Homo sapiens: one gene and its partners. The protein of the gene in region 2 interacts with the protein of the main gene of each other region in a pairwise test. Each region holds a gene or a part of one and is shown on either strand. Other genes may lie near its edges.

Region 1 (8,177 bases), on a different chromosome or scaffold from region 2:
TATCCATAACACCTTTCCCGAGCTAGGGATGTTGGGTGTGTTTCTGCAGTCCCAGCCACTCAGGAGGCTGAGGTGGGAGGATTACTTGAGCCCAGGAGTTTTGAAGCTCTCGTGACCTATGATCACCCCACTACACTCCAGCCTGGGCAACAGACTCTGTCTCTTTATTTAAAAACAACAGGCTGGGCGCGGTGGCTCACGCCTGTAATCCCAACACTTTGGGAGGCCGAGGTGGGCAGATCACAAGGTCAGGAGTTCGAGACCAGCCTGGCCAATATGGCGAAACCCCGTCTCTACTAAAAATACAAAAATTAGCCAGGCATGGTGGTGGGCGCCTGTAGTCCCAGCTACTTGGGAGGCTGAGGCTGGAGAATCGCTTGAACCCAGGAGGCGGAGGTTGCAGTGAGCTGAGATGGCGCCACTGCACTCCAGCGTGGGCAACAGTGTTAGACTCCATCTCAAAAAAAAAAAAAAAAGACCTTTCCTGACTACCCTGTTTAGAATAACAACTCCTGCTCCAGCACTACCAGTCCCACTTTCACTACTTTATTTTTCCTGTAGTATTTTCACCATCTGAGATATAGCTATAGATACAGATATAGATATATTTTTTTAATCTGTTACTTAACCCTACTAGAATGTAAGCTATTTAAGCTCTGTGAAGGCAGGAATTTTACATTTTACTCACTGCTTTTCCTTAGCACAATGTCTGACACATAGTAGGTATTCATAAATCTTTGTTGAAGCAATGCAAAAAAATTAATGGAGAATAGTAAAAGAAGGACTTGGATGCCCATGACCCAGCTTAAGAAATTATAGCACACATACATATACAGCAACTACATGGTTGAAGCCCCCATGTACCCTTCCCCTTTGCATTTCCCCGCTTTTCCTCCCCAGAAATAACCTCAGTTTTCTTGTCAGCCCTTTAAAAGAAAGCTGTCTTTATTCTCTTCACCTTAATATGCCTGTTCACTTTTTTCAATAACTTTTATTGTGTGTTCCAATTTCACAGGTAATATATCCAAATCAGAAAACATATAAGCACGAAGGGAAAAAATAGGCCATAATCCTGCTTTCCCCTCTTGTTTTAATGCATCCTTATTAGCTGTAGAACCTTAAGGAAGCCTCTTAACCATATAAGGAAACAAAGTTCTCCAGGTGTTCACTGTGGCCTTAGTTTCCGCAGTTTCTCCTCTGTAAATTGGGCATGATAATAATAGAACCTACCTCATAGGATTCTGTCAAGGATTAAGCAAAGGTCCACATAAAGAGCTCAGCAGCAGCGCCTGCCCAGGACATAGTAAGCACATAAATGATGGTGATCAGATGGCCTTTCACATAACTTCATTATTCTTTTTTGAGTACACACCTCATGCCCTATGTGATTTGTAAATGACTGTGGGGATTGATACAGGAACGCACAGTCCTTTTTGGGAGTTTCCCCACTAAACCAGTAGGCTTACAGTCAAGGTAGAACGTACATTTGCATGGGGCTGCTGTGAACTGACTTTGCTGTACACCTTCTCTAGGTGAAGAACATCATTTACCATGCAGTGAAAGATGCGGTTGGCACCCTCAAGGCTCATGAATCCAAACTGGCAAGGTCCTAGGCATGGAGAAACTCCAAGCTCCTCTGTGAAGCAGGTCTTTCACTCACAACACTTAACAGGGAACGGCAGGGCTCTTTGCTGGAGCAGAGGCCCTTCACCCAGAGCCAGTGTGGTCAGTATTCCAAACTCTCCAGCCACTCTCTTCTACGCTGCCTCAACACTGAAGGTTGACACAGGAAAGTCGTACTGTTCACACACACAGTTTGAGACTCCAAGCCAAGAGTGCCACATCCCTATCCTGTGGCCTTTTGGAAATCCAAATTGCCTGAACATGGCGGGGCTTTCCTGCACATTCTCCTGATTTGAGATTCACGGGCACACCTTTCTTTTCTTTTCCTCTTGTGCCTAGTTAAGTGGAAATGTGTTTGGAGATAGGGGAAATCACATAACTGGTACAAGTATGGGGTAATTGCTTAAACATGCCTGGTGGAAGTCTGATAGCGTCTCTGCACGTGACCTCTGACAAAGCCCATCCCAGGAGACGGGGTGAAGCTATTCCCCACACTCTCCTGTGAACACTGGAGTCTTGCAAGACCCAGGGAGAACCCACTGCTTTTCCCAGGAGGCTCCAGGATTAGGAAATGTGTGTATTTAGTGAAAAATAGGTTTGTAGTGAAATAGTTACTATTTCATGAAAGTAGATATTTTTAGAATTTTTGAAATACCACAGTTGTTTTCCTGGATTATAAGGAAAGGCACATTACATTTAGTCTTCCTTTCGATATAAAACTCTTTGAAGAAATATGATTTTTAGAAATCAGCTACCCATTATAGCACAAAATCAGCCAAAGCAGAATTTTTAAAAATTGGCTTTTTTAGGATTCTTTTTCTCCCCCTCCCATCTTAGTCTTACCTTGAGGGAACAGTCATATGAGAAGGAACTTTGTCACATCTAAGCTGTGGTGTGTTCCCCATGTGTGTGTACAACACTGGTGACTCCAGGAACCATTTTCACCTATTACCAGTGTTCCCTGGGGACTCCTCTTAATGTTTCCAAATGGGAAGGACAGTTGATTTCCAACATGAGGTTTTTTGTTTTTTATCCAGAAATATTTTCAGCAAAACTTTCCAACTGAGTGGAGTCTGATTAAGGATTTATTTGAAAATGGTGGGATTCATTGGCCCATAGGTACATTGGAAAATGTATATCTCTCCAGCTGTACTGTAGTGCCCTGCAGGCTGTTTATATGTTCACAGTTACTTTTTTTTTTTTTTTTAAATAAAAGTCATTTAATGTAGAATACTTTTAATTTCACTTTCTGTATTTTAATTTTGTTGAAGGGCTGATTGGGATTTCCATGTTCTTATTAAAAATCTAACAAATCTGTTTGGAGTGGACTAAATTATTCGTGTACCAACCCTTCTAAAATCAACATCAGATTGGGAGTTGGGTTGGAGGTGGGGGATTCATTTCCAGGTCTTCATGACTGTGCTACACCCAGATATTTTTCTTTGCTTGTTGAGACTGTGCCATGTTAGAAAAAAGGAAAGTGCCAGGGTGAGGTCAGTATGGTTTGGGGAATTGGGGGTAAGGGGAAGGGGCCACATGAATTAGAGGGTAGAAAGAGAGACATGTTTCCCCATACTTTATGCTTTGTGAATGGAGTGGGAAAGTTGGGGTCCTCCCTTCCTGTGGCAGAGTCTGGGGGGAAGGGTCATGGTGTGTGGCCTCAGCAAAGTTGGACAGTCTGTGGTGGGATTCTTAAGCAGGCAGCCTGGCTGCCTACATGAAACGTGTGGCCATAGATCCACCTTAGAGATGGTGGGAGACACTCATGTGGGATTTATCAAGCAGTAATTAAAGTGTTTCATTGTGGGGTGATAACAGACTGCATTCCAATTAGGAGATGTTTTCTGGAGAGGAAGTTGTAAAGAATAGCAAGAGGGGTTATCAGAGGCTGCTTTTCTGGAACGTTTTGGGAAACATCTTCCAAAGTGTTTGAACCTGGAAATATAATTTACCAGGTTAGAAATAGACCATTGTGTTGTTCAGGGATACTGAGCTTGAATAAGACCATGACTCTTTGAAATACACAGTTCTGAATGTGTCCTTTCAGCCCAGATGGGCACAGGTTGATGCTGTGGTCACCCGAAGGATTACAACTCAACATAAAGGGTAGAGGAATGCAGAAGCTCTAAAATGGGACAGGAAAGGAGAGCAATAGGGCTGGGGGTGTTGGTGGATGGTTGGAGGTTGGTTGCTTTCCTGAAGATCAGGAGGCAGGCTAGCCTACATTCTGGATATAAATGTCTTTAGAATCAGGACATTCACTGCCACTAGTGCTTGCTGATGGGGGTGGAACTGGAGCCCCAGGACCCTCTCGCAGCCCCTCTGTTTGAAAAGAAGGTTGACCCTTTGTTGTCAGTAACCACATTGAGAGCATAAAGCTCTGTTCCGCTGCAAAGCTTAGGAGCTGACAACCTAAAAAAGCAGACCAGCAGCCCGGTGGCTCACACCAGTGATCCCAGCACTTTGGGAGGCTGAGGCGGGTGGATCGCTTGAGCTCAGGAGTTGGAGATCAGCCTGGGCAATATTGCAAAACCCCATCTTGGCAAAAAAAAACAAAAAACAAAAAAACAGGAATTAGCTGGTGGTGTTTTGGGCCTGTAGTCCCAGCTACTCGGGAGGCTGAGGCGGGAGGATCATTCAAGCCCAGGAGGTGTGCTGAGATTGTGCCACTGCACTCCAGCCTGAGCGACAGAGTGAGGACCTGTCTCAAAAAAACAAAACATCATCTGGTCAGGGGAGATCCTCTTTCAACGGGGTGAGAAGGAGTGGGGTGGACAGGTGCGGCTGTACCTGTGACTCAGGAGCTCAGGTGGATGTCTTCAGGGCCTGTAATGAGGAGAGTTTGCTAGTCAGCAGTTGGGGGATGTAACCTGTTTAAAGTAGGCTTCCTGGGGTCATCTTAGCAGCATGACTTGGTGGCTTTGTGACTCTCAACAGATTATTGAGCCTTAAGCTTCTCATTCCCTTATCTTCAAAATGAGGGCTTTTATAGCGCCTGCCTTATAGGGTGGTCAAGAGGATTCACTGGCAACGCAGTGAAGCTCTTAGCACAGGGGCTGGCACACAGTAAGCGCCTGGTGTGGGCAGGGCAGGAGGTGGGCAGGGGTCGATTTCAGGATGTAACCATGGAGACCTCCACGACAACAGCCTAGGGCTTGAAACCCAAGAAAGATGAACAAGCGATTCGAGGAAGGCAGGGCACTGAGGGTCGGAGGCGCATGCCCGGCCACAGCAGGTGCCGGGGCGGGGGCGCGCCGCCGCCGCCGCGGCGGCCTCCCGGCCTCCCCTTTAAGAGCCGCCACCGCCCACGGCCCGCCGCTGCGGCAGGGACCTCCCCTTTAACGGCGGCGCTGGGCGCTCCGCTGCCCCCGCGGCGGCTGCTGCAGCGGCTGCTGCTGCTACTGCGGCTCCTGCTGCCGCCGCCGCCGCCGCTCGGCCTCAGGCAGCTGCATCCTCGGCCGGGCCGGGTCCCCGCCCCGCGCCGCGCCCGGCCCCGCCATGGTGTCCTGGATCATCTCTCGCCTGGTGGTGTGAGTGCGGCGGCGGCGGGGGGTGATGCGGGCTGTGATGGAGGGCGGGGGTGTTAAAGCCCGGGTGGACTTCTCCGAAGCTTCGTGCAGCAGAGTCACCTAAAGGCGCTGCGTCCTTATTTGGGGCCCCCAGAGACATGGAGATGTGGCACCCAGGACTGGAGGGGGGAATATTAGGGGAGCGTGGCAGGCCTGGCTTCCCAGGGACCTCACCCACATTCTTTATTAATAACCTCTTTTATTTCTACCGTCCTTGCTCCTGCGCCCATCCTAGAGGCTGAGCAGCACGGCTTGATTTAAAAGGGGAGGCAGGCGCGTCCCCTCCCCCACCTAGCAGGTCTGGGCTGGAGGAGATCCTCAGACCCGGGCCCTGTCCCTCTGGGGGAGGTAACAGGGTGATGGAAGAGAGTGGAGCAAGGCAGGGCCTCATCATCATTCCGCAGCTCAGAGCCATCACCAGGCCCCTTGGTCTCTCCCTTCCACTCACTGTCAGGAGACTGGGGACGAGGGCATATGCCCTTAGGCCCCCTAGGGAGGAAGTCTGGGTATCGGGAAGCAGAAATGCTCGGAGGACAAAGTGTGAGAGGTAACTGGGAGAGGGGATGTGTGTGCTCAGCCTGGGATTGTGGACCCCGCTGGGGGAGGACGCTCCGTGGCCTTCATTCCAGGCTGCCAGCCACACTGTGGAGCTGTGTCTCTGGCACCTCCCCGGGCCCCAGGAGGGAACACACACCATTCCCCACGAGCCCAGACTTTGTCCTTGAGGATTCTGCTCCGCACTCCACTTGCACCAGCCGGTTTGGAAGTATCCCTCCTGTCCATGTGGAAACAGGCGACAGCCACACATTGTCAAGGGGCTGAGCCTGACAGGGGCTCCTCGTGGTTCTCGGAGCTATCCCCTGCCCTAATGAGGACACTGCCCCTCGGCCTCCACCGTTGGGGACTGACACCGGCAGCCCCACCCTGCTCCCTTCTTCCCATTCGGTACAGCCGGGCCGGCCAAGTGCTTCTGTCCTGGTTTACTCTAGACTCCTTCTCTTCCCCCACCCATCCCAGGGGGAATGGAGGGGCCTCACGCCTCCATGTGGCCTTCAGGGTGGCTGCTTCTCTCTTGCCTGGGCAAGCCCCAAAGGGCATCGGTCCTCTTCTTTCCCGGCCTGTGTCTTGTCTGCATTCTGTACTTGGATCACCAGCGGGGCCCTCCCCTGAGCCCTGTCCCTGTGGTGTTTACATGGGGGAATAAGCCTCTTTGCCTCTCTCAGGGCCTCCTGCCCCTGTGCCCTCTGTTCCCTAGGGCCCCAGGGCCACAGTGGTACCTCTGCCTGCCAGGTAGGGTGCCCTGTTAGGTGGTGTCAGGTTCCCTCGCAGAGCCTGGCTCTGAGGGAGGTGGAGGGTAAGGGCAGATGGGTGTGAATGGGCATGAGGTCAAGAAGGAAGACACCCTGTGGCAGTGACCTGACTCCCAGTCTCCATGACATATTTGTGTGTAACCAAGGATCATGGCGCAAGGGACTACATTGGACCCTCTGGCCTCTGGGCCTTTCCCTGCCTCCGGGGCTAGAGAAAAACTGAACAGTGGAGCGGGGAGGGGGCATCACCCTACCTGGCTGGGCATGTTCCATGCTGCTTTGACCTTAACCCCTGACCTGAGTTCATCAGTCCAGCGGGGAGTTCTGTCTCTCTTCCCATTACTTACCCAGGGGCTGATGCGGAGCTGGGAGGGAGAGGCCACTGCCCTTGGCTGAGAGGCCCAGTAACCATGCCTGCCTCCCTAGGCTCATCTTTGGCACCCTGTACCCAGCCTATTCTTCCTACAAGGCCGTGAAGACAAAAAACGTGAAGGAATATGTGAGTGGATGACCCTTCACCCCCTACCCAACCCACATGGCACAGAGAGGGGAGGGCACTGGGTCCTATTACAGATGGGGGTGACTTTGCACCAACACTGTCAGCCACTAACAAGACCCACCAGCAAAGGAGGGCCCTGGGTGTCCCACACAGCGCCTCCAACATGGCTGGCAGGCAGAAGTGGGGTCCTTGGTGTTCTCCCCAGCCCAGGCATGTTCAACAGGCAGAGCTGGGGTCCTGGGTGTCCCTGGCCCCTCAGCCCCGTGCCCCAGCCAGCGCTTCCCTCTGTCCCTCAGGTGAAATGGATGATGTACTGGATCGTCTTTGCCTTCTTCACCACGGCCGAGACGCTCACGGATATAGTGCTCTCCTGGTGAGGTCCAGCGTCCCCTCCTGTATCTCAGGGCCCAGGGCCTCTGCCTTTCTCTACCCAGCCAGCCAAACAAAAGACTGGGCCTGGGGGTGAAGCTCCTCCCATTCCTGACAATTTCATGGGGTCCTTGATATCTCCCCTCTCATGCCTAACTTGACCTGCAGAAGAACAGACATAGTAGTGCCAGGCGAGGGGGCTCACACCTGTAATCCCAGCACTTTGGGAGGTCTAAGTGGGTGGATCATTTGAGGTCAGGAGTTTGAGACCAGCCTGGCCAACATGGTGAAACCCCGTCTCCACTAAAAATACAAAAAAAAAATAGCTGGGCATGGTGGCGCCCCTGTAATCCCAGCTACTAGGGAGGCTGAGGCAAGAGAATTGCTTGAACCCAGGAGGTAGAGGTTGCAGTGAGCCGAGATCGCGCCATTGCACTCCAGCCTGGGCAACAGAGTGAGACTCCGTCTCAAAAAAAAAACAAACAAACAAGGAGTAAGAACAAACATAATCCCCATGTTTCTTTCTGGCGGCAGCCAGAGCCCCTCAGTGGAATTCAGGAAACCCGCTTCTGCCATGCTGCCTGCGACCTTAGGCAGGTCACAGCTCTCGAGGCCTCAGTTTCCTTATTTGTAAAATAGGCATATGATTCACTCCTATAAATGCTGGATACTTGCATTTCCAAGGCATTTTCCAGGCTGTACTAGACTACGTATGTATGAGCACTTTGAGGACAGGGAATATGTCTTAATCATCTGTATATTCACAGCAGGAACTCAAAAATGTTTACTGAATGATCAGATACCTCT
Region 2 (8,280 bases):
AACCTCTTTCTGCCCATATAACAGCATGGTGGTGCAGGATATGGAAGGCATAGAGTCAGTATAAATACTGACACGTAGTCCTTTTGCAAGAGTGAGGGCCTGAGTTAAGGCAGTGAGTTCGGCTTGCTGAGAGGTAGTGGAGGAGGGCAGAGCGGTAGCCTCAATGATAGATGTGGAAGATACTACAGCATAGCCTGTTTTGCTGGTGAGTGGCAATTAGGCCTGGTGGAACTGCCATCAGTAAACCAAGTGTGATCAGGATGAGGAACAGGAAAGAAGGAAATATAGGGAAATGGAGTGAATGTCAGGTGGATCAGAGAGATACAGTCATGGGGGTCTAGTTTGGTATCCAGAATAATGTGGGAGGCCGGACTGAAGTCCGGGCCAGAAAAATGGTAACTGTGGGAGACTCAACAAAGAGTGAGGATAGCTGAAGGAGTCGGGAAGCAGAAAGTATATGCATCAAGTGGGAGGAAGAAAATAGATTTTGGAAATTATGAGAACTGTAGAAAGTGAGTTGAGCATAGTTTGTGATTTTTAGGGCCTCTAAAAGTATTAGGGCAGCAGCAGCCGCTGCACGGAGACATAATGGCCAGCCTAAAACAGTAAGGTCAAGTTGTTTGGACAAAAAGGCTATGGGGCGCGGTCCTGGTCCTTGTGTAAGAATTCCGACTGCACAGCCCTGCACTTTGGCTGTGTGTAATGAAAAGGGTTGGGATGAGTCACAGAGAGCTAGTGCAGGAGCAGTCTCTAAAGCTGTCTTCAAGGAACGGAAAGAGGAGTGGGGAAAAGATTTAGGATCTATAGGGTCGGCTAGATTTCCTTTTGTGAGTTTATTTAACGGTTTTGTTAGGATGGCAAAACCAGGTATCCAAAGTCGAAAGTATCCAACCATGTCCAGGAAGGAAAGGAGTTGTTGTTTTGTAGAAGGGGTTGGGGTTTGAGAGATCAGTCAGACATGATCGGCAGAGAGAGCACGTATGTTTTTATGAAGAATTATGCCGAGGTAGGTAACGGATGGAGAAGAAATTGAGCTTTGGAGGGGGATACCCAATATCCCTTGGAGAATAAATGTTGAAGGAGCAGGAGGGTGTCCTGTTGAGAAGATTCAAAGGAGGGGCTACAAAGTAGAAGGTCATCAATATATTGAATAAGGTGAGAAGCAGAAGGGTGGAAAGAAAGTAAATCAAGAGAAAGAGCTTGGCTGAAGTAATGAGTGCTGTCCCTGAAGCCTTGCGGCAGTACAGCCCAGGTAAGCTGCTGGGACTGATGGGTGTCAGGGTCAGTCCAGGTAAAAGCAGAGGCTGGGACGAGGGGTGTAGGGGAATAGTGAAAAAAGCATCTTTAAGATCAAGAATGGAATAGTGAGTTGTGGAGGAAGGTATTGAGGACTAAAGAGTGTACAGGTTGGGCACTACAGGGTGGATAGGCAAAATAATTTGGTTGATAAGGCGCAGATCCTGAACTAACCTGTAAGACTTGTCCGGTTTTTGAATAGGTAAAATGGGAGAATTGTAAGGAGAGTTTATAGGTTTTAGAAGCCCATGCTGTAGCAGGCGAGTGATAACAGGCTTTAATCCCCTTAAAGCCTGTTGTGGGATGGGATACTGGCATTGAGCAGGGTAAGGGTGATTAGGTTTTAATGGGATAGTAATGCGCGTGTGATGGGTTGCCAGGGAGGGAGTGGAGGTGTCCCATACTTGTGGGTTAAGGTGGGGGGGATACGAGAGGAAGACACAAAGGAGGCTTTCGGTTGGGAAGAAGGGTGGCAATGAGATGTGGCTGTAGTCCAGGAATAATCAGGGAAGCAGATAATTTGGTTAAATATTTCAGCCTAATAAGGGAACTGGGCAAGTGGGGATAACTAAAAAGGAGTGCATTAAAGAACGTTGTCCAAGTTGGCACCAGAGTTGGGGAGTTTTAAGAGGTTTAGAAGCCTAGCCGTCAATACCCACAACAGTTATGGAGGCAAGGGAAACAGGCCCTTGAAAAGAAGATAATGTGGAGTTGGTAGCCTCTGTATTGATTAAGAAGGGGATGGACTTATCCTCCACTGTAAAAGTTACCCGAAGCTCGGTGTCCGTGACGGTCCAGGGGGCCTCCAAGGCGATCGGGCAGCATCAGTCTTCAGCTGCTAAGCTGAGAAGATATGGGAAGGAGTCAGTCAGAGAGCCCCGGGCCAGAGTTCCAGGGGCTCTGGGAGTGGCTGCAGGGCAAGCTGGACAGTCTGATTTCCAGTGGGGTCCCGCACAGTTGGGACACGGCTTAGGAGGAATCCCAGGGCTGTGGGCATTTCTTGGCCCAGTGGCCAGATTTATGGCACTTTAAGCAAGCTCCTGTGGGAGGCGGTCCTGGAGGAAAGCCTGGCCACTGCGGTTCAGACGTTTTGAAGTTCTTGTGTGCTGGAGATGTGGCTGGGGTTTCTCTCACAGTGGAGGCAACTAATTGCAACTCAGAAAAACATTGCTACTTGGCTGCCTTTACTCTATTATTGTACACCTTGAAGGCGAGGTTAATTAGGTCCTGTTGTGGGTTTTGAGGGCTGGAATCTAATTTTTGGAGCTGGCGGCTTGGGTGCGGTGGCTCATGTCCGTAATCCCAGCACTTTGGGAGGCCAAGGTGGGTGGATCACTTGGGCCCAGGGGTTCAAGACCAGCCTGGGCCACATGTCAAAATCCTGTCTATACAAAAAATACAAAAATTAGCCAGGCATGATGCACCCATAGTCCCTGCTACTCAGGAAGCTGAAGTGGGAGAATCACTTGAGCCCAGCAGGTTGAGGCTGCAGTGAGCTATGATCCACCACTGTACTCCAGCCTGGCAGACAGAGCAGGACCCTGTCTCAAAAAATACATATATATATAATCTGGGCTTGATGGTACCTGCCTGTAGTCTTAGTTACTCAGGAGGCTGAGCTGAGAGGATGGCTTCAGCCTGGGAGCTCAAGGCTGAAGTGAGCCATGATTACACCATTGCACTCTAGCCTGGGTGACAGAGAGACTCTGTCTCCCTCTAAAAACAAACAAAATTCAGTCTAGCTCTAGACCTAATGAGAATCTTCATCTTAGCAAGATCCCTAGGTGATGTGTGTACACAGGAGTTTCTTAGAGGCAGAAATCACTTCCCAGCAGTGTCTGAGGATGGCATCACTTCAGCCATCATCACCAGGGCTGGGGACCTGGAGATTAACAACGATGTAGTCCCTGCCCTCAAGGAGCTTGCAGGCTAGCAGAGAAACAGACAACCAGAGGAACAACCACAGGACTGGTACAAAGGTAGGGGAGTAGCAGAGACGGCTTTACAGAGGAGGTGGCTCTGAGATGCTTAACCTTTAGTGCTAGTAGAGGCATCGTTTGTTCTAAGAAAATTTGCTTTACATTCTTTAAAGCATGCAGAGTTGATCAATGCAACACCTCTTGATTTCCTGATAAGAGCTTTCAGAGGGTATCATCTTTGAGCAGCTCCTTACTCAATGGAGTGGTGCAGTGAGACCTCTGAGCCTCAATTTCCTCATCTGCAAAATGGGACAGTTTGTACCATATTGGCGTTACTGAAATTATCCGTGTTTTTTTTTGAGACAGAGCCTTACTCTGTCACCCAGGCTGGAGGGCAGTGGTGCAATTTCGGCTCACTGCAACCTCTGCCTCCTGGGTTCAAACAATTCTCTGCCTCAGCTTCCCAAGTAGCTGGGAATACAGGTGCCCGCCACCACACCCAGCTAATTTTTTTTGTATTTTTAGTAGAGATGGAGTTTCACCATCTTGACCAATCTGGTCTTGAACTCCTGACCTCGTAATCCACCCACCTTTGGCCTCCCAAAGTGCTGGGATTACAGGCGTGAGCCACCGTGCCTGGCCTTATCCGTGCTTTTATTTGAGCCACAAAACCACCCTGTGAGAGAAGCAGCATGGTGTGGAAGGACTTCCATAAAAACTTGCTAAACAGAAGATACAAAAAGAATGCTGCTAAACAGTATGTTCAACTGTGAAATCATTTTTGTTTAAAAAATGCATATACATATTCTATAATTTTTTTAACATTTTAACTATATATAACTAAATAGACATATAGAAAAATGCTCTATTAACACTGATTTTCCTGGAGAGTGGAAATAGCACTTTATACATTTCAACACTTTATTTTCAAGGACGTGTACTTTTTAAATGGGAACATTTTATTTTTATTTTTATTTTTTGAGACGGAGTTCACTCTTGTTGGCCAGGCTGGAGTGCAATGGCATGATCTCAGCTCACCACAACCTTCACCTCCCAGGTTCAAGCGCTTCTCCTGCCTCGGCCTCCCGAGTAGCTGGGATTACAGGCATGCACCACCACGCCCGGCTAATTTTGTATTTTTAGTAGAGACGGGGTTTCTCTATGTTGGTCAGGCTGGTCTCGAACTCCCGACCTCAGGTGATCCACCCGCCTCGGCCTCCCAAAGTGCTGGGATTACAGGCATGAGCCACCACGCCCAGCCGGAAACATTCTAAACATACGTAAGTATAACAGGAGATTAGAAGTCATGTTGATTCTGCGTGGCTTGATTATGGATCATTGTCTTCCTCTCATCGCAGATCCTCATTTTTTCGGTTTTCTGTGATGCGCTTGTCCCCATATGGGGCTCTGGCGTCTTTCTGGGTCTGGAGGTCCCCAGCGCCCTCTGCCGAGGCATCTCTTGGTCCGGCGGTCCTCAGGCTGGAGGGTGGAGCGGAGAAGCCTGGTCGACGTGGATGGACTCGGTGGGCCGGCGCGGGGCCCGTTAGGCATCTTTAATAAGTTTCACCGGGAGCCGGGTGGCCGGGATGGAGACGGCTAAGCCGCGAGAAGTTTACCTTCTACCACAGCGTCCACAGTACCCGGCTTGGCCTCAGGCCTCGGGTCCCGACGTCCTCCCCAGAGCACAAACCTACTACAGGTTAGGCCGGAGGCCGCCACAGCCCAGGGTCTCTGCCACCTGGCCCGCCCCCTCCGAGGCGCCGGAGAGCGATTCCCAAGGGGCCTGCCGGAGCGTGGCGTCACAGGAGCGTCGCGTCACGTGAGGCTGCCATCCAATCGCGGCGCGCGCTCTGCCCTGCGGGCAGCGGGTGCCAGGCACGGTGTCAGCAGGCAACATGGCCGAGAGGCCGGGGCCTCCGGGCGGCGCCGTGTCCGCGACCGCGTACCCTGACACCCCCGCGGAATTCCCTCCGCACCTCCAGGCGGGTGCGATGCGGCGCCGCTTTTGGGGCGTATTCAACTGTCTGTGCGCCGGCGCGTTCGGGGCCCTGGCCGCCGCCTCCGCCAAGCTGGCCTTCGGCAGCGAGGTCGAGCCCGGGGCGCTGTTGGTGCTGCTGCTGCGGGCGGGCGGGCGGGGCGCCGCTGGGCGGAGGAGGGGCGCTGCGGGGCCCGCGGGGCTCTTGGGGTGGGGCGGGGGTGGGCGCAGGGCGCCGCCGCACCCTCGCCGGTCTGTCCCGCCGGGGCCCCGGGCCGCGGGCGGCGCTGCGGTCAGCTGGGGTGGCAGAGAGTGTTTCGCCTCTAATCACGCCAAACCCTCGTCCAGTGTAGGTGGTAAGAGACGTCGGGGACTGAGGCCTCTTCCCTTACCAGGGACCTAAAACCTTTTCTCCGGTTGGGCTAGTTCGCTCTCGGGGAAGAACTACACCTCCTACATCCACCCTCTACCTCTCATTTTAAGTCCCTTGTGCCTGAGCATTTCTCTCCACGTGACTCTTAAGGTGAGAAGCCTCTTGCCCATCCCTTTACTCCGTAATTAACGGGTGTTGTGACCAGATGACCAGTCTGCCCCACTACCAGGAAAATTGGGAGTTTGGGATACTGTAGGCATAAGAGGATACTGACAGAGACGTTCTGGATGTTTTCCTGACGCTGAGAACTCCTAAACTTGCATCCTGGCGTCTGCTAAGGTGTATCTCTGCCTCTCCCTCCCACGTCGTAGACCAGCCTCTGCTTGCTATAGGGGTTTCATTGCGTCTGCAGCCCAAGGTTAGCCTCTGACCTGGACAGTGGTCACTGATTATTTAGGGTTAAGCCTATTTAGGGCTAATCCAGTAGTAGCTGCCATGCTTCAGGTTAGTATCCCATTGGGTGTAGTTCATGGGGTAAGTGGTCGAAAGTAAAATGAATAACTTTGTATGGGCCGTGAAGTTTGTTGTCAGGAACTAGACCTTCATAACCCTTTAAGCAGGTTGCCACTGGCCCATATGCTGCTTTGTGTAAGACAAGGTTGTCCAACTCGCGGCCCAACGCAAATTTGCAAATTTAAAACATGAATTTTTTTGCGATTTATTATTTTTTTTTTAGCTCATCATATATCATTAGTGTTAGTGTATTATATGTGTGACCCAAGACAGTTCTTCCAGTGTGGCCCAGGGAAGCCAAAAAATTGAACACCCTGGTGTAAGTTATAAGCAAGCACCTTTTTCTCAAGACACTATGTGTTCAGCTGCTGAGAAACCATTACAAGTAATAAGTATATTTAGATTCCGCACCCCCCCCCCCCGCCGCCTTGTCTCCAGGCAGGTTTCTAACTCACCACCAAGCAAGGGGGACTGCATATCCTTTGTGTAGGAGGCTTCTAAAGATCTTCTCTTCTCTTGAGACTTTCTCCTTTAAAAAAAAAGAAAGAAAATACCTGCAAGTTCTCCAAGGGATGTCTGGGATCACTAAATAGTCTGAGGTGGTGTTTCCCTCAGGCAAGGCTGTGCCCTAGTTAAGAGCATGGAGGTACACTGCCTGCTTGTGAAGCCTGGTGGCTCTCACCGCTGTAGCACTTTAGGAAGGTTACTTAATGCCCCTGGCTCTTTATCTGTAAAATGAAGTTAAGGAATAAATGAGAATGCTTAAACACAGCCCAGGACCTAACACAGAGTAAAAGCTCAAGAATACCCAGAGGGGGTCAGCCTTAGTGGGCTGTAACTTGTATAGGATTTGGGGGTGGGAATACAGAGCAGACATTGCTAATTCATGCTTTGCCTGATCTCAAGAAATAAGAACTCTACCCTAGGCTTACTACCTACGGAGTAAGAACTACTTGGCCCTCTGGGACTGATCTTCAAGCACTGGTCATTGTGGGACCAATAAGGGGCCGGTGTTCAGTAGAAAATACTGGCTTTGGATTAGCATTTTGCTTCTTCCCAAGATCATATGGCCAGCAAGGTGGCCAAATGAGTATCTTCTCTGAATTTGCTTTATTTGTAAGATGGGTCTGCTGCCCACTGAGGGTTAAGTGAAGCCCTGTGCAGGAAAGCTCTGAGGCCCTCTGAGCTGTAGTGGGAGCTCAGTAGGAGCCTGGGTGCCAGCAACCACAGTCCTGGGTGTGCTTTGAGGGGGTCTGCAGGTTGCTGCCCAGGGTGGACGTGGCTGCAGTGACACTTTCTCCTGCAGGTGAGCATGGGTTTATGCGTCTTAGGCATTATTGTGATGGCGAGCACCAATTCTCTGATGTGGACCTTCTTTAGCCGGGGCCTCAGTTTCTCCATGTCTTCAGCCATTGCATCTGTCACAGTGACTTTTTCAAATATCCTCAGCTCGGTGAGTAGCCTGAGGGTGTGGTGCTCTTGTCCTAAATCTGGGTTCTGGGTGAGTTGTCTTTGGATAACCCCTCCTTTCCCAGACAGGAGAAAGGACAGGAACTGAAGCAGAGGTTGGGCTGTGGCTTGACCCCTGGATGAGTGCTCTATTCATGGAGCAAATGTAATTCTAATCATGGAAGAATTCTTAAGTTAGATATGAGTGAAGCCTGACAGTAAAAAGCCTACTTGCTTGCTGTTCCTCCAGGGTGGAGCCCTCATTCTGAAGTCACTGTGCATCCTAGCTGTTTCCTAGGGTTCTGTGTACTCAAGGCTCCATGGCATTTAGAGGGTTGGGATTCCCAGAAACTTTTCTGCCCTGTGTAGTCTGAGGTTGACAAGATGGAGCTGAGCGTAGTCAATCTTGAGTTGAGGGAGAAACAAATACCATGTACCTGCTGTGTCTACCTGCTGGCATCTGCTGGGTCTTTCTTGTGTACTTTGCTGAGGTCCAGTGCAGTGAGGGAGGTAGCCTCTCCACTCATGCAGGGGAGATTGAATAGAGTGACTTGATGAAGGTGACAGCTAGGTTTCAAGCCCAAGGCTTCTGGCTCCAGACCTTTCCTCCTGGCACCCTTAGAAGGAAGTCAGTCCCAGGAGAGTGAGGTTGTGCCCACCTGCTGAAGTTGAGTCCCTCACAGCTATCTTTGTCTCGCAGGCCTTCCTGGGCTATGTGCTGTATGGAGAGTGCCAGGAGGTCTTGTGGTGGGGAG
Region 3 (7,282 bases), on a different chromosome or scaffold from region 2:
CATGAAGCATTAGTATTCATGATTTTCCTTTACTGTTTTAGCCCCCCAACCTTTTTTTGGTTTAAAACTCAGGTGGAACTGTTAGTAATGATGAATTTTCATATCGTTGTATGGCACTATTGTGACACAGCCCTTTTTAGTGGAAAAGGAAACATATGAAAGAAATATAGAATATTTGCATCTCATCAGAAGCACTAAAGGAAATATTAATGCAAATACATGCAGAAAAACAAACATAACTAGTATAGTATTATAACATGTAAAGACATGGAGGAATTTCATCCAAATATTATTAAAAGGTTGGGAATTGTTATGCTGTGGATTAGGGGTTGACAGTTACTGTAGCTTCCATGATAATCCTGGGAGGCTGAATTTTTGAAAGCTCTCTGACCCTGCTGAACTAGAAGGGCTAATTTGAGAAGGGTATGGTGTAAAATGTGGCCTTTTATAGGCTGAAAACAGGGATTTGTTAAGTGGTTGTTGAATGAATGCATGCCTTGCATTGTTGGGCAAAGAAGTGAGGGCATTGCTTTTTTCCCCTGGAGTAAGGAATGAAGTAAAAGGTCATTGAGCTTTGTAGAGCACATATATTCACTAAATACTAGGTTGATGAGTTGTTGACTTGAGGATAAAGTTATTATGCCAGCATAGAGGAGGATCTGGGAAAAGCTCTAGGAAGGGTTCTTGGACACTGAGGAAACCTTGAATATCAACAAATGTGCTTTTGGATTTGGCAGAAAGGATAGAGAATAGAGGAATAGTGTGAAAAAATTATCTACTCTTTATTTATTCATCAAATATATTTTTAGGTACTTTGATAGGCCTTGCAATACAAGAATGAAACACCCAGCCCCTCTTTTCAGGGAGAAAACAGTTTAAAAGAAGGTCACTGGACAGTGTAATGAGTGCTGTAATGGAATAGTAACATGTGCAGGTGCTCTGGTCATGCAAAATGCGTCCCCTGACCAGTTAAAATTTTCTTGATCCAGTTTTCCTCACCATTAGTCTATTCTTCCTCCTAATAATTATTTTTAAAAGTAACAATTTTCAGAAGTTAAAATAAACCTAAATGATCATGTAGTTTGTTACTGCTCAAAAGGGGATGGTCCATGGAATAATGGCATAGCATCAGTTAGAGCTTCCTGGAAAATGTGGTCTTCTTAGAAATGGGCTGCATGGGCTGGGCATGGTGGCTCACGCCTGTAATCCTAACACTTTGGGAGGCCAAGGTGGATGGATTGCTTGAGTTTAGGAGTTTGAGACCAGCCTAGGCAGCATGACAAAATCCTGTCTCTACAAAAAATACAAAAAGTAATAGGGTGTGTTGGCGTGTGCCTGTAGGACCAGCTACTTGGGAGTCTGAGGTGGGAGGATGGCTTGAGCTCAGGAGGCTGAGCCTGCAGTGGACGGAGATCGTGCTACTTTACTCCAGCCTAGGTGACACAACGAGACTCTGTCTCAAAAAAGAAAAAAGAAAAGAAAAGAAATGGGCTGCATATCTGACCCACTGTCTCAAAATCTGCATTTTTACCATGCCCACCCGCCCCCCTCCCCAACCTGGTGATTCGTTTTCTCATTGAAACTGGAGAAGCACTAATCTGGTTCACCTACTTCCCATCCAGTTTTACAGATGGAGGAAATGAAGATAGATTGTGCTCCTAAGGTCCTATGCACAGTAGCAGAGCCAGTGTTAGAACTCAGCCAGTCAGCTGGTCATGGTGGCTTCTTACTAGTGCCTCTTTCCTTCTCTCTTTTGGAAATTCTCTGTTGAATGAGAGAACAACAGTGCACCACACTATATATAAAAAAGAATGAACATTTTTATTTACTTATAATTTGTGGCATCAGCAACTCAGGAGGCTGAGGCAGGTGGATCACTTGAGCCCTGGAGGTGGAGGCTGCAGTGAGCCATGTGTGCACCACTGCCCTCTAGTCTGGACAATAGAATGAGACTCCATTTCTTAAAAAAAAAAAAAAAAAAAAAAAAAAAACCCAGTCACCAGTCTACTTACTGGTAGGGTCTTGTGTGCTTTCTCTGATGCCTCTGTTATTTCCTGTTTCTCTTTACTTTTTTACTCTTCTATTGGCCTCTATTAGTGTTTCATATTGTAAGATCTTCAGCTTCTCACTAGTGTCTCTTTCCCTCTCTCCTGTGGTAGTCCTCTCTTTAAATTTCTCTGTTGAATGAAAACGATACAGCATACCACACTGTACATCAAAAAGAATGAGCACTTTTACTTACTCTTAATTTCTGGCAGAGGTTTGGACCTATTTCTTTAATTTTTTTTTTCTACCCGCTACTCAGAACTTTCTTTGAAGTCAGTAGGAATTCTGTGTGTGGTAAGGGTGAGAGATAATCTATGATGTTAGGAATTAAAATCTCCTCACAGATACATTTATCTTCCTTTCTTTGTTACATGGAGTATGGCATTAATCAGAGTACTTTTGCTCTTTGTATAAGTCTCATGGGAAAAACAGCGCCTGCCTTAAAGTTGGTGGAAAAGAACAGGATACCACAGCAACTCCTTCTCTGTGACCTAGAACAGAGAGTTTGTCTAAATGTTTCTTCTCTAATATAGGGGGTTTGTCTAAATCTTTTTTTTTCTATAATATAGAAAAAGAAATACCTAAGTAGATGCACACCTCATGTTTTATAGGGGGCCTTTAGCATAGAAAGATATGGTCATAGAATGATAATGAACATAAAATGATAAAATGCCATTAAGAAAAGTGAACAGTCACTGATAAGACCTTCGTGGCACAACGCCTTTTTAACAAAAGTCAGCCGTGCTATCTTTTAAGTCATTTCCTCCTTGTGAGAAGTTTACCATCTCTCCTGTGGTTCAAATATATTGGTTTATTTTTAACTCTGAAATGTGTTTGATTTGAGTGATATAGCCATAATCTCTATGAATAGTAGACCTCCTTTTAAAACTATGAAATAAAATCAGTTTTTCTGTTTTCCTGGTTCCCATATGTGTTTTTCTTTCAAGTCATTATCACCTTTTTTTCCCATATCTCGAGTCATCAAGCAATAGCTCACCTTCTTAACAACTCTGATTTCATTAAAACCATAGTTGTGTCATTTCCTGACTTTGCAAATTGTTTGATTAAATATTGTGTTTCGTATCTTGTATCTTACTGTCTATTGACAGTATATAGACACAGATTAATTTTTTAAGTAAGGTATTTTAATACCTAGTTCACTAATCCAGAAGCATTTTGCATATACAGGCTTTAGTAAAAATGACAGTTTAAATAGGGAGTTATTATGATCAACAATTAAGTTAAATTCATTTAGGTTGGTTCTAAGAAGTTGAATTTTCTTTTACTACTTTAAAAATACATTATTTCTTCAAAATACGACATAAAATGTTTTGCATTGCCAAGAATAAACTAGAAATTAGATTTGCAACCTTCAACTGTTGTTTAGCTTTTAGAAATATAAAAATTAATATTAATATATTTTTATAATGTGTTAAAAGATGAATTTTTGTTAATCCCATCCATATTTCATTATCATGCTTGTTTCAGAAATGTTTTACTTGTGGCAACATTCCATTATAAAATTGATTTATGGTTGTGTATTTGAATATGCTGGACAATCAATTCATTTTAAGTAAAATAATGTGTTGCATTTTATATATATAGTTACACATATGTAAGTTATGCGATTTACAGCTCTAGAGAAAAACATTCAAGTTAGTTATTCATGGGAATAAAATAGGTGCATGTTCTCAATGAAAAAGTTAGAAAAATGTCTTGAATATGGTGACTGTTTACATTATAGAATTGTAATTAACCCTAACTTAATCTCTCAGTGCCCCTGTACTCTTGTCTTCAGTGTCTCGAGATATTTCAGCAAATGGCTACCATCGCCCCGTACGTACCTCTCCAGTTACATTCTTGCCTGCTTTAGGAGTGGACACACAGAGCAGCCTCCAAGCTGCCCTGATAAATTTCACGTGTATAATATGGAAGACAAATGTTTCCTTAACATATTTATTTTCTGTGTATGAAGTTTTTCATTAACTTTTCATCCCAAGATAACCACCTCTGTTTTTAGTGCGCTTTATTTCTTGTTTTTGTTCTGTAGGGTCTCTGTAAAACATAATGTGTGACATAAGTAATGAAGCATAATTTTCAAAAGCCACTTGCAGGAGTCAGTATTGTTTCTTTGGTTTTTATACCATGTATTTTTTGTTGGGACTCAAAGGACAGTGATCCGTATTTAGTCAAATTAGGAAATTAAGTTGAAACATCTTGATTCCTAAAAAGTGTATTTTATAAAACATTTACTGATTAATGAATTTTATGGTATTTTGTTCTCTCTATAGATAAGCGTGTGGAAAATTGGCCTCTGATGCAGTCTCCTTGGCCTACACTAAGTATAAGCACTCTTTATCTCCTGTTTGTGTGGCTGGGTCCAAAATGGATGAAGGACCGAGAACCTTTTCAGATGCGTCTAGTGCTCATTATCTATAATTTTGGGATGGTTTTGCTTAACCTCTTTATCTTCAGAGAGGTATGTTTTTAAGATCACTTTAATAATTTTCCAAGGTTATTGGAAATTTAAAAATGAGAATGTGTAAAACCATCATTGTAATATTTTACCCAGACATAACTGTTAGCTACTCTAAAAGTACATTTTTGACATTTTTCACTTTTGAATAACAAAAATATTAAACATGAGGTATAGGAAAGTTGTTTAAAGTGGAATTTTGAATAAGACCAACTGGATTCTAAAGTAACCCTTATTAGCTGTTCTGGCATTGAAAGTTATTTAACTTTTCTTAGCCTCGTTTTCCCCACTTAAATACCTACCATCTCAGGTTATTATCGGAGTAAAGTAAGATAATTTTTGCATAGTGTTTGGCACGTATTAAGCACTCAGTAAACAGTAGCAGCTATTTATTTATAATTCTTATTCAGTAGTTTCTGGTTTGGTAACTGATCAAAATATGCCAATTTCAAGTAAATCCTATTACATAATGTTGTATTTTGGGCTGGAATTAAAATGAATTAACTGCCATATAGCTGTTGTTACTAATCATTATATACTTTTCTGGGCACTAGCAAATTCTCCACAACATTTTCAAAGGAAATCCTAAAGGCTAGATTGACACAGCCATTTTTTAAATTGCATATGTATAAAGAATTTGTTTCCTAAGAGACTCATTAAAATTCTGTATGAAGCCAGAGAACTGACTAGTAATGCTAGGAAAATAAACAATAACTCTTCTTAGAAAAAGAAATATTTCTTTACTTGAAAACTTAGCCTCGAGTCTCAACTTCATGAACACTTTAATTTATTTGGATACCTGTACCTAATTTGTTAGATGCAAACCACTCTGGATCAAACATAGAAACCAGTTAAGGTAGGACAACTTTGAAATCTGAGTCCTAGCAATAAAAATTTCTCTTAATACTGTGAAGTATTTAATAGATAGAGTCAATGTTCAGTATAAAATTTACATGTGATTTTTAATTTAGATTTTAATTATAGAACAAATTAATGCACAGTAACTTCTAGCAATCGGAATGCATGAAATTTTTAATGCATTTGAAATTTTTAAAGAAAATATTGTGTTTAAAATAATTTGAAAGGCTACATTTTGTATATAATTGTGTTTTTAATGCTGTGTTTACTAAAACTTTACTACAAATATTATTACTCTTTTTCCAGTTATTCATGGGATCATATAATGCGGGATATAGCTATATTTGCCAGAGTGTGGATTATTCTAATAATGTTCATGAAGTCAGGGTAAGTACATTAAAAATACTCTTAATCAGTAAAAGTGGTTTGATTTTTATAGGCCCCAGTCTGTGAAAATATAGAATGTACTTTTTTTTAAGAGACAGTTTCTTTAACATTCATTTAGAGACAGTTTCTTGCTCTGTCCCCCAGACTGAAGTGCAGTGGTATGATCATAGCTCACTGCAGCCTCAAACTCCTGGGCTCAATTGATCCTTCTGCCTCAGCCTCCCAAGTAGCTGGGACTACGGGTGTACCCCACCATGCCTAGATATTTTTTTACTTTTTGTAGAGACAGGGTCTTGCTATGTTGCCCAGTCTGGTCTTGAACTCCCAGCCGCAAGGGATCCTCTTGCCTCAGCCTCCCAAAGTGCTGAGATTACAGGTGTGAGCCACCACACCTGGCAAAATGTACTTTAATATGATAGTGAAATTATACTAGATTGTTATGAGTCAGTAAAACTATGCTTTTTTAAAAAGTACTTAATTTAAAATTTGTTTTTGTATCTCAAAAATGTTTTTTATTTTGCAGCATGAGTGAATATGCATTGAATTACTAGAATGCAGTACTTGTTAAAGCAAAGAAGTCTCATGTTTATTTTAAAGACATTATTTTAGATTTTTGTTTGTTTGTTTTTGCTCAAGAGTAGAAACTCTTAGAGTCCAAGTTATGTGTTAAGAAAGTGAGGAAAAGTAAATGTTTTGTGAAGTGTGGAATATTTAGGAAATTAGGCATAGAACAATTTGTATTGGCATAAACTCAGTTTTTTTATATTTGCAGAAAAATAAAACACTAGTAACAAGATGTTATATTTTATTTTCCATTCACTTACATGAGTAAAATTAACATTAAGCAAAAGAAACAACAGATTACCTTATTCTATTACGTATTTATTGAACTCTTCTTATATACTGTGGTTCATACTAGAAATTACATATAAAACATAACATGTTTTATGTTACCTATAGTATATGTAGTAATAATATCTAGTGGCTTCCCTTGAGAAAAATAGTTTCCTGGCATGGGGAGTGGACAATATATAAATATCAGTATTCATCAAGACTGGAGACAAAATTGGTTTAATGTACTTAACAATTTTATGTACGTATCTTCATTTCCCTATTAGAAGACTTATGGACTGATGAAAAATCACCTGTCTTGGTTGTCATGTTGGTTTTATTTATTCATTAAATATGTATTGAGCATCTACTATATGTTGGTACTGGGGACAGGGGTGAAAAGCCCTGCCTTTGTGGGGCTGGCATTTTAGTGAGGGTGAGAAGGCAGACAGCAGCCATGTAAACAAATGACTAAGGAGGAAATAAAACCTAGAAGGTGACTGAGAGAAAATGAGAGACTACTCAGATGTATTGGCTATGAAAAATTTTCTTCTGATAACTATTGCCAAAGAATCTCTTCAGTTGGAGGGCTGACTTCTTGCTTGCCGTAGGGAAGGGAACAGGGATAAGTGTTTGACTGACTGACTTCTGGGAGTATGCATAGAAAAACCCTTGGGTGGGGCA
Region 4 (7,282 bases), on a different chromosome or scaffold from region 2:
CTTTACAGTTTGTAGTGTTAACCTCTTTAGAAAAAGAGCAGCCATCCTAAGAAAGTAGTAAGAAGAGTTCATTAAAATTCAATCACTTATTCCCTTGGTCTGACATTGTGGTACATGGCAGGGTGTGTGTGAGGTTGTGGAGGCTGTAACTGCAAGTGTGAGGGAAATGCTGTTCTCTAGACTTTCAGATCCACACACAGGAAGTCTACACTGATAAAGCGGACTAGCAGGTGACTCTGGCCAGACTAACTCATGGTGATACTGTCCCCAAGACAAGTGGCTATTAGAATAAACCAGATTTACATAGCATTTTGGTTTCACTTTTTTTTTTTTTCTGTACACATGATCTCATTTGACTACTTAGTTGACCCCTGAACAACTTGGGAGTTAGGGAAACAGACCCCCTGTGCAGTTGAAAATCTGTGTATAACTTTGACTCCTCAAAAACTTACTAATAGCTTACTGTTGACTGAAAGCCTTATGAATAACATAAGCAGTTGATTAACACATATTTTGTATGCCATATGTATTATATACTGTATTCTTACAATACAGCAAGCTAGAGAAAAGAAATGTCATTAAGAAAATCATAAAGAAGAGAAAATATATTTACTATTAAGTGGAAGTGGATCACCATAAAGGTCTTCATCCTCATTGTCTTCACATCAAGTAGGCTGAGGAGGAGGAGCAAGAGGAGGGGTTGGTCTTCTCTCAGGGGTGGCAAAGGTGGAGGAAAATCCACATATATGTGGACCCCATGCAGTTCAAACCTGTGTTGTTCTAGGATCAACTGTATTTCTCATGCATCTTGTAGTGCCAACTCCAAAAGCGAGTGTCATCTTAGGGCTTTATTTATGAGGATGCAGTACATAAAATGCTTGGTGATTCATAAACACCAATTGATAAACTTCTAATATAATTAACTGTTAACAATTTTTCAATACATCTGATGGTATATAGCAGATAGGAACACACTATGGGAAAGGGACCTCTCCAGGAAGGAAGCCAGCCCACTGCAAGAATAACTGAGCCTGTCAGAAAACACTGTGACATAAATCAAAGTGCTAACCTCATAAACTATAAAGATCATTCTCAAGGTAAGGCAGGTGTTAATTACTACCAAATGTTAACAGAGGCATGTATGGTGACAGTGGTTTTACTTCATGGTTATGAGACTGAATTTGAAGCACTTACAAATGGCACATTGATTTTTTAATTGCTTTTCTGTCCTTCCATTCATGTATTTGGTAAATCTTAGAAGTACAGGCTGAAAGAGTGCTGAGAGGACCCATTCATCTCATCTAGGGCATGCTAGGAATCATTAGAGAATCACAAACTTGGAGAGGTGTGACTTGTCAAAGATGAAAGAGGAAAACAGAAGGTGTCTTCAGGGTGCTTCTCAAAGAATGGTCCCAGAATCTCCTGGGGTGTTTAAAACTGGAAGTTCCCTCTGGTCCCTGGCTTTGAGCCCACTGGGCTGTACAACCCACTTATCTCTCACCTGTCATGTTCAAGAGTGATATGCAAAAAAATATGGTAAATTCAACAGAAAGTGATGGACATGCATATTCTCAACACCCTCCTTACCTAGTTTGGTAACACCCAACACTCTAATTTATAGCTCTGGTGCCAGTCTCTTCTCTTGAGTTCCACACCTGTAGGGTTAACCGCCTACCCAACCTCTCCACTTAGATATGTAATAGTCATTGAGGATTAACGTGTTCAAAGTTCAATGCTTTGCCTTCCATGCAAAACTTGCTCCTCCCTCAGTCTTCCCTGTCTCATGTAATTGCAACACATTCTTCTGGTTGCTCAGGCCAAAAATACCAACGTTATCCTTGACTCTTTATTTTCTCTCAGCAACCCATCCGCAAAACCTACCGTTCAACCAGTATAACCACTTCTCACCTTCTCTACTGCTATCATCCCACTCCCAAACCGCCGCGCCGCTCAACTGCATCACAGTAAAACCGCATCACAGTAACAGCTTCCCGACTGCTCTTCCTGCCTCTGCCCTCACAGCCTGGAGTTTATTACTGCTAGGGCACACAGAGCAATCCTTAAAAATGCGTAAGTCAGATCACGTTCCTCCTCTGCCCACACCCTCCCCTGGCTAGTATCTCACTCCAAGTAAAAGCTAAGCTCTCTACCATGCCCACTGGCCTGTGCCGACCGTACTTCTTCTGGCTCACTCTGTTCCAGCCTCCTTGCTGTTCCTTGTGAACAGTGAACACACCCCTCCTCTGGGTCCTGGCACCCAGAAGTTCTCTCTCCCTGCAACACTCTTCCCTCAGATAGCCTCATGGTTCATTTACCTCGTCTCTGCTCAAACGCTACCTACTCAGCGAGCCCTTCCCTGACCCTTCCATAAAAGAGCACACCCCAACACTCTCAAACCCATTACCTTGCCTTTTAAAAACTTTACTGCATTCATCACTGCTGGACACATTCTATATTTATTTGCATATATGTTCATAATCTTTCCTCACTGGAATGAAAGCTTCATGAGAACATGGACTTTGTCCATTTTGTTCACTGCTGTGTTCCCCGGCACTACAGCTCAGAGCCTGGCTCAGCATGCACATGTCGAATGAATGCACGGGCCGAAGGAAACAGCCAAGGAGCTATGGCAGGGCTGCTGGCATTTAACCTCTACACCTTCGGATGTGTCACGAATGCCTACAAACTACACCCTTCACATTTCTAGCTGGCATTTCAGATGCCCGTCAGTAATGGTGAGTATCTGTGGCCAGATGCTCCATCCACAGTGTATGACATGCATTGATTTATGGTTATTACCCAGCTGGTGGCTCCAGCTGTAGATGCTGTAAAGGCTCTAAGGTGGGAGCAAAGTGATTTTAAATCACTGACATACTGTTTAATAAAAAGTCAGATCTTTTGTGAATGGAGGAAGCCCCCAAACCAAAAAAGAAGAAAAATCTGAAAAGATCACAGAAGATTTTTTTTTCACTTATCAGAAAACTAGCAGCAGCATCCAGTCCCAAATGTCACTAGGTATTCTGCTAGGGGACTCTTAAGTTCCTGCTCACAAGCCTGCTCTATAAACTTTATGTCTAAAATCAGTGTTGTTTCTTTCCAAAGTCTGTATTAGCGACAATGATGTAGAAGTTATCACATGTAAAATCATGTTACTAAATAGATAGATATAAATTCTAATATTCTTGATATATACAGTAGACAAAACAGTTCACTGCAATTAAGCTTTAATACTAACTCAGTACTGGCTATCTTTTTCCCTTAGTAGTTATGAATAAGAGCTAAAGTGCCTTGTTTAATAAATTATCAACATATTAAAATATAAAAAATTTCAAAATTTGATTTTTTTCAAACAAGCAAACAAAATAACTAGATATAGGAAAAGATGAAAAAAATTTATAAAAATGTTGAAGACAAAAGCAATTCATTCCCCTATTTTTCCTAATTGCCAGTATTTCTCAAGTTTTTTTATAAGTGTTATTTTTATACTTGAAAATAAATTTTATTTACAAAATAAAGACTATTTCAGAAAAATGACGTAGGTTTTTTAAAAAAGCTTTAAAAACACTTTCCAAGAAGGAAACAAAGGAAAGGGAAAGAATAGAAAAACACTGGAAGTAGGGCCGGGTGCAGTGGCTCACGCCTGTAACCCCAGCACTTTGGGAGGCTGAGGTGGGCGGATCACAAGGTCAGGAGATCGAGACCATCCTGGCTAACACAGTGAAACCCTGTCTCTACTAAAAAATAAAATAAAAATTAGCTGGGCGTGGTGGCGGGCGCCTGTAGTCCCGGCTACTCGGGAGGCTGAGGCAGGAGAATGGCGTGAACCCGGGAGGCGGAGCTAGCAGTGAGCGAGATTGCGCCACTGCACTCCAGCCTGGGCGACAGAGCGAGACTCTGTCTCAAAAAAAACGAAAAAAAAAAGAAAAACACTGGAAGTATATAACTTTTAAAGTTCTTTGCCACTAGTTTAAATTTTTAAGAAACTTCAATTTTTATTGATGTATACAGCAAACAATGCAATTCATTGCAATTAAGCTTTAATACTAACTCAATACTGGCTTTAAATCAGCAAAATTGAAAATATACGTTTCTTCAAAACAGGCCCTTATAGATAAAAATATAAATACAAAGTTAAAACAACCTGTAATATTACATTTAAATTGCAGCTATCAACATAAATTCATAATTTAAAAACTTTTTATTAGGGAACTTTTTAACCTTGTACAGAAAGAACTGGATAATAAACAGCAGCTGGGTTTCATCTTTACCCCTCAACTATCTCCCCCCAACCATCCAGGAATGCTTTCAAAGTAAATCCTACTTTTTCAGGAAATAGTATGTATCTCTAAGAGGTACTCCTTAATCTTTTTAGTATTCACAATATTATCCCAATTAAAAAACGTTCCTTTATTTCATCAAATATTTAGCTTTCAGATTTCCATGATGGTATTATGATTTTGTTTGTTTACATGTCATTTACAGTTTGGCAGCATGAAGAGACTCCCACTGGTCAATTTTGGTGTAATTTAAACAGTAAGGCATAATCACTGTCATTCATTTCAATATACTGAATATACAAAAATCTATGAAAATGATAATTTGCCACAACTGCATGGGACTATTATATTGATTTTTTACTTTGAAAATTGCTAATTAAATAAAAAGAACTGAGCATTTATCCTACCTTTTTTAGGAAGAACTGTAATCATCCCCAGTTGATGAGGAGAAGCTCTTCTGTAGAGAAGAATGACAGCTAATAAACACAAAAGAAAAGTAAAAGTAATTAGAAAATCATGCCACGCACGATGTCTCACACCTGTAATCCCAGCACTTTGGGAGGCCAAGGCGAGAGGATCACTTAAGGCCAGGAGTTTGAGACCAGCCCGGGACACACAGCAAGACCCAGTCTCTACAAAAAATAAATTAGCCAGGTGTGTTGACACGCAACTGTACTCCCAGCTACTGGGGAGGCTGAGGAAGGAGGTTCACTTGAGCCCAGGAGGTTGAGGCTGCAGTGAGCTCTGATCACACCACTGCACTCCAGTCTGGACAACAGAGCAAGACCCTGTTTCAAAAAAAAAAAAAGAAAATCACCATTTTTCCAACCCCAACGAAACTACTGATTCAGGCAGGATGCAAGAGAGCTGATGCCAAAGGGTCACAAACAGATTACTTTCAGACTGAGAGGGAAAAGCACACTCTGCTGAGGGTAGACAGCTGTCTGTCATCCTAAGCCAACGTCAGACTCAGCATCTCCAACAGTGGAACAACCTGCCATCCTTGCCACATCTCTGGATGGGAAGCTACCCAAAGTGCATGGCACCTTCTATTAAGCAGCTTTGCCAAAAAGGTTTGACCTGAACCTGATGCAGGGTCTAGCTTCCAGTTTCCAGGGGATACAAGGGCCAGACTCAGAGAAACAATAGAAGATGCCACAAGGAAACAATCTGACAAATCCAGATGGAACAAGACACCTGGTTAGTGTCTAAAAAAGCCAATGCCATTGGGAATGAAAAGGGAAGAGGGAAGCTATTCTTGAGTGAAAAAAAAAATCAAGGAGACATAATTTTGCTGAAAAGAAATGTTGGGAATGAGGGGAAAATCTGAATAGGGACTAGGTATTAGATACTATTAGAGACGTATTGTTAATTTTCTTTTTTCTTTTTTTTTTGAGACAGGTTCTCACTCTGTCACCCAGACTGGAGTGCAGTGGGGCAATCTCGGCTCACTGCAACCTCCGCCTCCCAGGTTCAAGTGATTCTCCTGCTTCAGCCTCCCAAGTAGCCGGGATTACAGGTGTGCACCACTACCGCCTGGCTAATTTTTGTATTTTTAGTAGAGATGGGGTTTTACCATGTTGGCCAGGCTGGTCTCGATCTCCTGACCTCAAATGATCCACCTGCCTTGGCCTCCTGAAGTGTTGGGATTACGGGCGTGAGCCACGGCACCCGCCTGTTAATTTTCTTAGGTGTGAAAATGGAATTCTTAAGAAACAAATGCTGAAGTATTTAGGATAGTGTCATGACATCTATCACTTGCTTTGAAACCATACAGCAGAAAATATAAACAATGCACTTACGGCAGCATTTGCTAAATCTAGGTTATGGTTATACGGGTGTTCAATAATTAATACATTTTTAAAGAACAAATCAATAGCCTAGAGGGAGGAATGGTTCACTGGTAATGCCAATGTAACTATTCTAGTCTGTGTAAGTTCTAAATTTCACTGTAATTTAATACATTGACATTCTGGCTTTGTACATAATTTTAAAAAATATTCCCTTTATTCGTTTCAAGCCTATATCTAAGTGACCCATAAATAAGGAACTTTATAAACTTAAAATTCTGATTTTTTTGTAATGCATAGTGCCTTTATTTCTTCATTTAGTTTTCCTTAAACTCAGGTCTAAAAGTCTCATCATAAATGGTGATGGGGGCGGATGGGAAGGAGGCTGGCATAAAAAAAGTACACATTAGGTACAATGTATACGATTCGGGTGATGGTGCACTAAAATCTCAGAATTCACCACTATATAATTCGTCCATGTAATGAAAAACCACTTGCAGTCCAAAAGCTACTGAAATAAAAATTTTAGAAGAATAAAACAAATGGTGATGGTTTCAGTTTGAGGCAGAACTTGTACAATTTTTTGCTAGTGAACGGTTAAAAGTTAACTGGTCTACAATGGGGTGGTGTTTCTCAGAAACCACGGCCTGTCGGCATCACCTGGGGATGCTTTTCAAAACACAGATGTTTCCTCTTCCCTATCCTGTTCAGAACCAGTGGGTTAGGCCAAAAAAAAAAAAAAAAAGATGAACTTTAAGAAAAAGAGTAAGAAAACACTATAAGTGGGGTCAAGGGTAGTTTGAGCTAGGATGCCTGAGACTACCCCTAACCTTTCAAAGTTGAATAAAAATAGGAAGCCATGTTCTCTGATGAAAATCTCTGATGCCTCTGTGAGGTAAACAACACTAGGCTGAAGAGGCCAGGAGACTAACTCAAAATAGAAACAAACGCTTACGTTCTTATGATAATCCTGTTGCATTTGCTGCACTCACTCCCACAACTATACTCTCCGAGACAGCCACAATATTCTAAAAACCAATTATCTTAATGTCAATTACTTATAATGCATAACTTTATAGTATGATATCCATTTTTAATTCGATGATTACTCAGACTTTATCTGAGTTTTGACAAGTGCATATACCTTTGTAACCAAAACTCCTATCGACAGAACATCACCATTATCCCAGGAAGTTCCCTCTTGCCATTTCCAAG

What was found.
Region 1: the proteins of TMEM42 (region 2) and REEP2 interact in binary tests that used the Homo sapiens proteins (3 or more experiments, as listed by UniProt).
Region 3: the proteins of TMEM42 (region 2) and ELOVL4 interact in binary tests that used the Homo sapiens proteins (3 or more experiments, as listed by UniProt).
Region 4: the proteins of TMEM42 (region 2) and MTIF3 interact in binary tests that used the Homo sapiens proteins (3 or more experiments, as listed by UniProt).

Annotation. Positions count from the first base shown.
Region 1 is NC_000005.10:138,434,088-138,442,264, forward strand, and holds the start of REEP2 (receptor expression-enhancing protein 2), read left to right. Parts: upstream 1-4,969; 5' UTR 4,970-5,121; coding exon 5,122-5,153; intron 5,154-6,853; exon of another isoform or gene 6,854-6,928; coding exon 6,929-7,001; intron 7,002-7,297; coding exon 7,298-7,374; intron 7,375-8,177. Other genes in the region: KDM3B (lysine-specific demethylase 3B), read left to right, coding at 1,533-1,613. UniProt on the Homo sapiens protein: Required for endoplasmic reticulum (ER) network formation, shaping and remodeling. May enhance the cell surface expression of odorant receptors.
Region 2 is NC_000003.12:44,856,815-44,865,094, forward strand, and holds the start of TMEM42 (transmembrane protein 42), read left to right. Parts: upstream 1-5,097; 5' UTR 5,098-5,110; coding exon 5,111-5,302; intron 5,303-7,382; coding exon 7,383-7,529; intron 7,530-8,225; coding exon 8,226-8,280.
Region 3 is NC_000006.12:79,923,437-79,930,718, reverse strand, and holds part of ELOVL4 (very long chain fatty acid elongase 4), read left to right. Parts: intron 1-4,337; coding exon 4,338-4,525; intron 4,526-5,686; coding exon 5,687-5,767; intron 5,768-7,282. UniProt on the Homo sapiens protein: Catalyzes the first and rate-limiting reaction of the four reactions that constitute the long-chain fatty acids elongation cycle.
Region 4 is NC_000013.11:27,440,404-27,447,685, forward strand, and holds part of MTIF3 (translation initiation factor IF-3, mitochondrial), read right to left. Parts: intron 4,754-7,282; 5' UTR 4,685-4,753; intron 840-4,684; exon of another isoform or gene 614-839; intron 47-613; 5' UTR 46-46; coding exon 1-45. UniProt on the Homo sapiens protein: IF-3 binds to the 28S ribosomal subunit and shifts the equilibrium between 55S ribosomes and their 39S and 28S subunits in favor of the free subunits, thus enhancing the availability of 28S subunits on which protein synthesis initiation begins.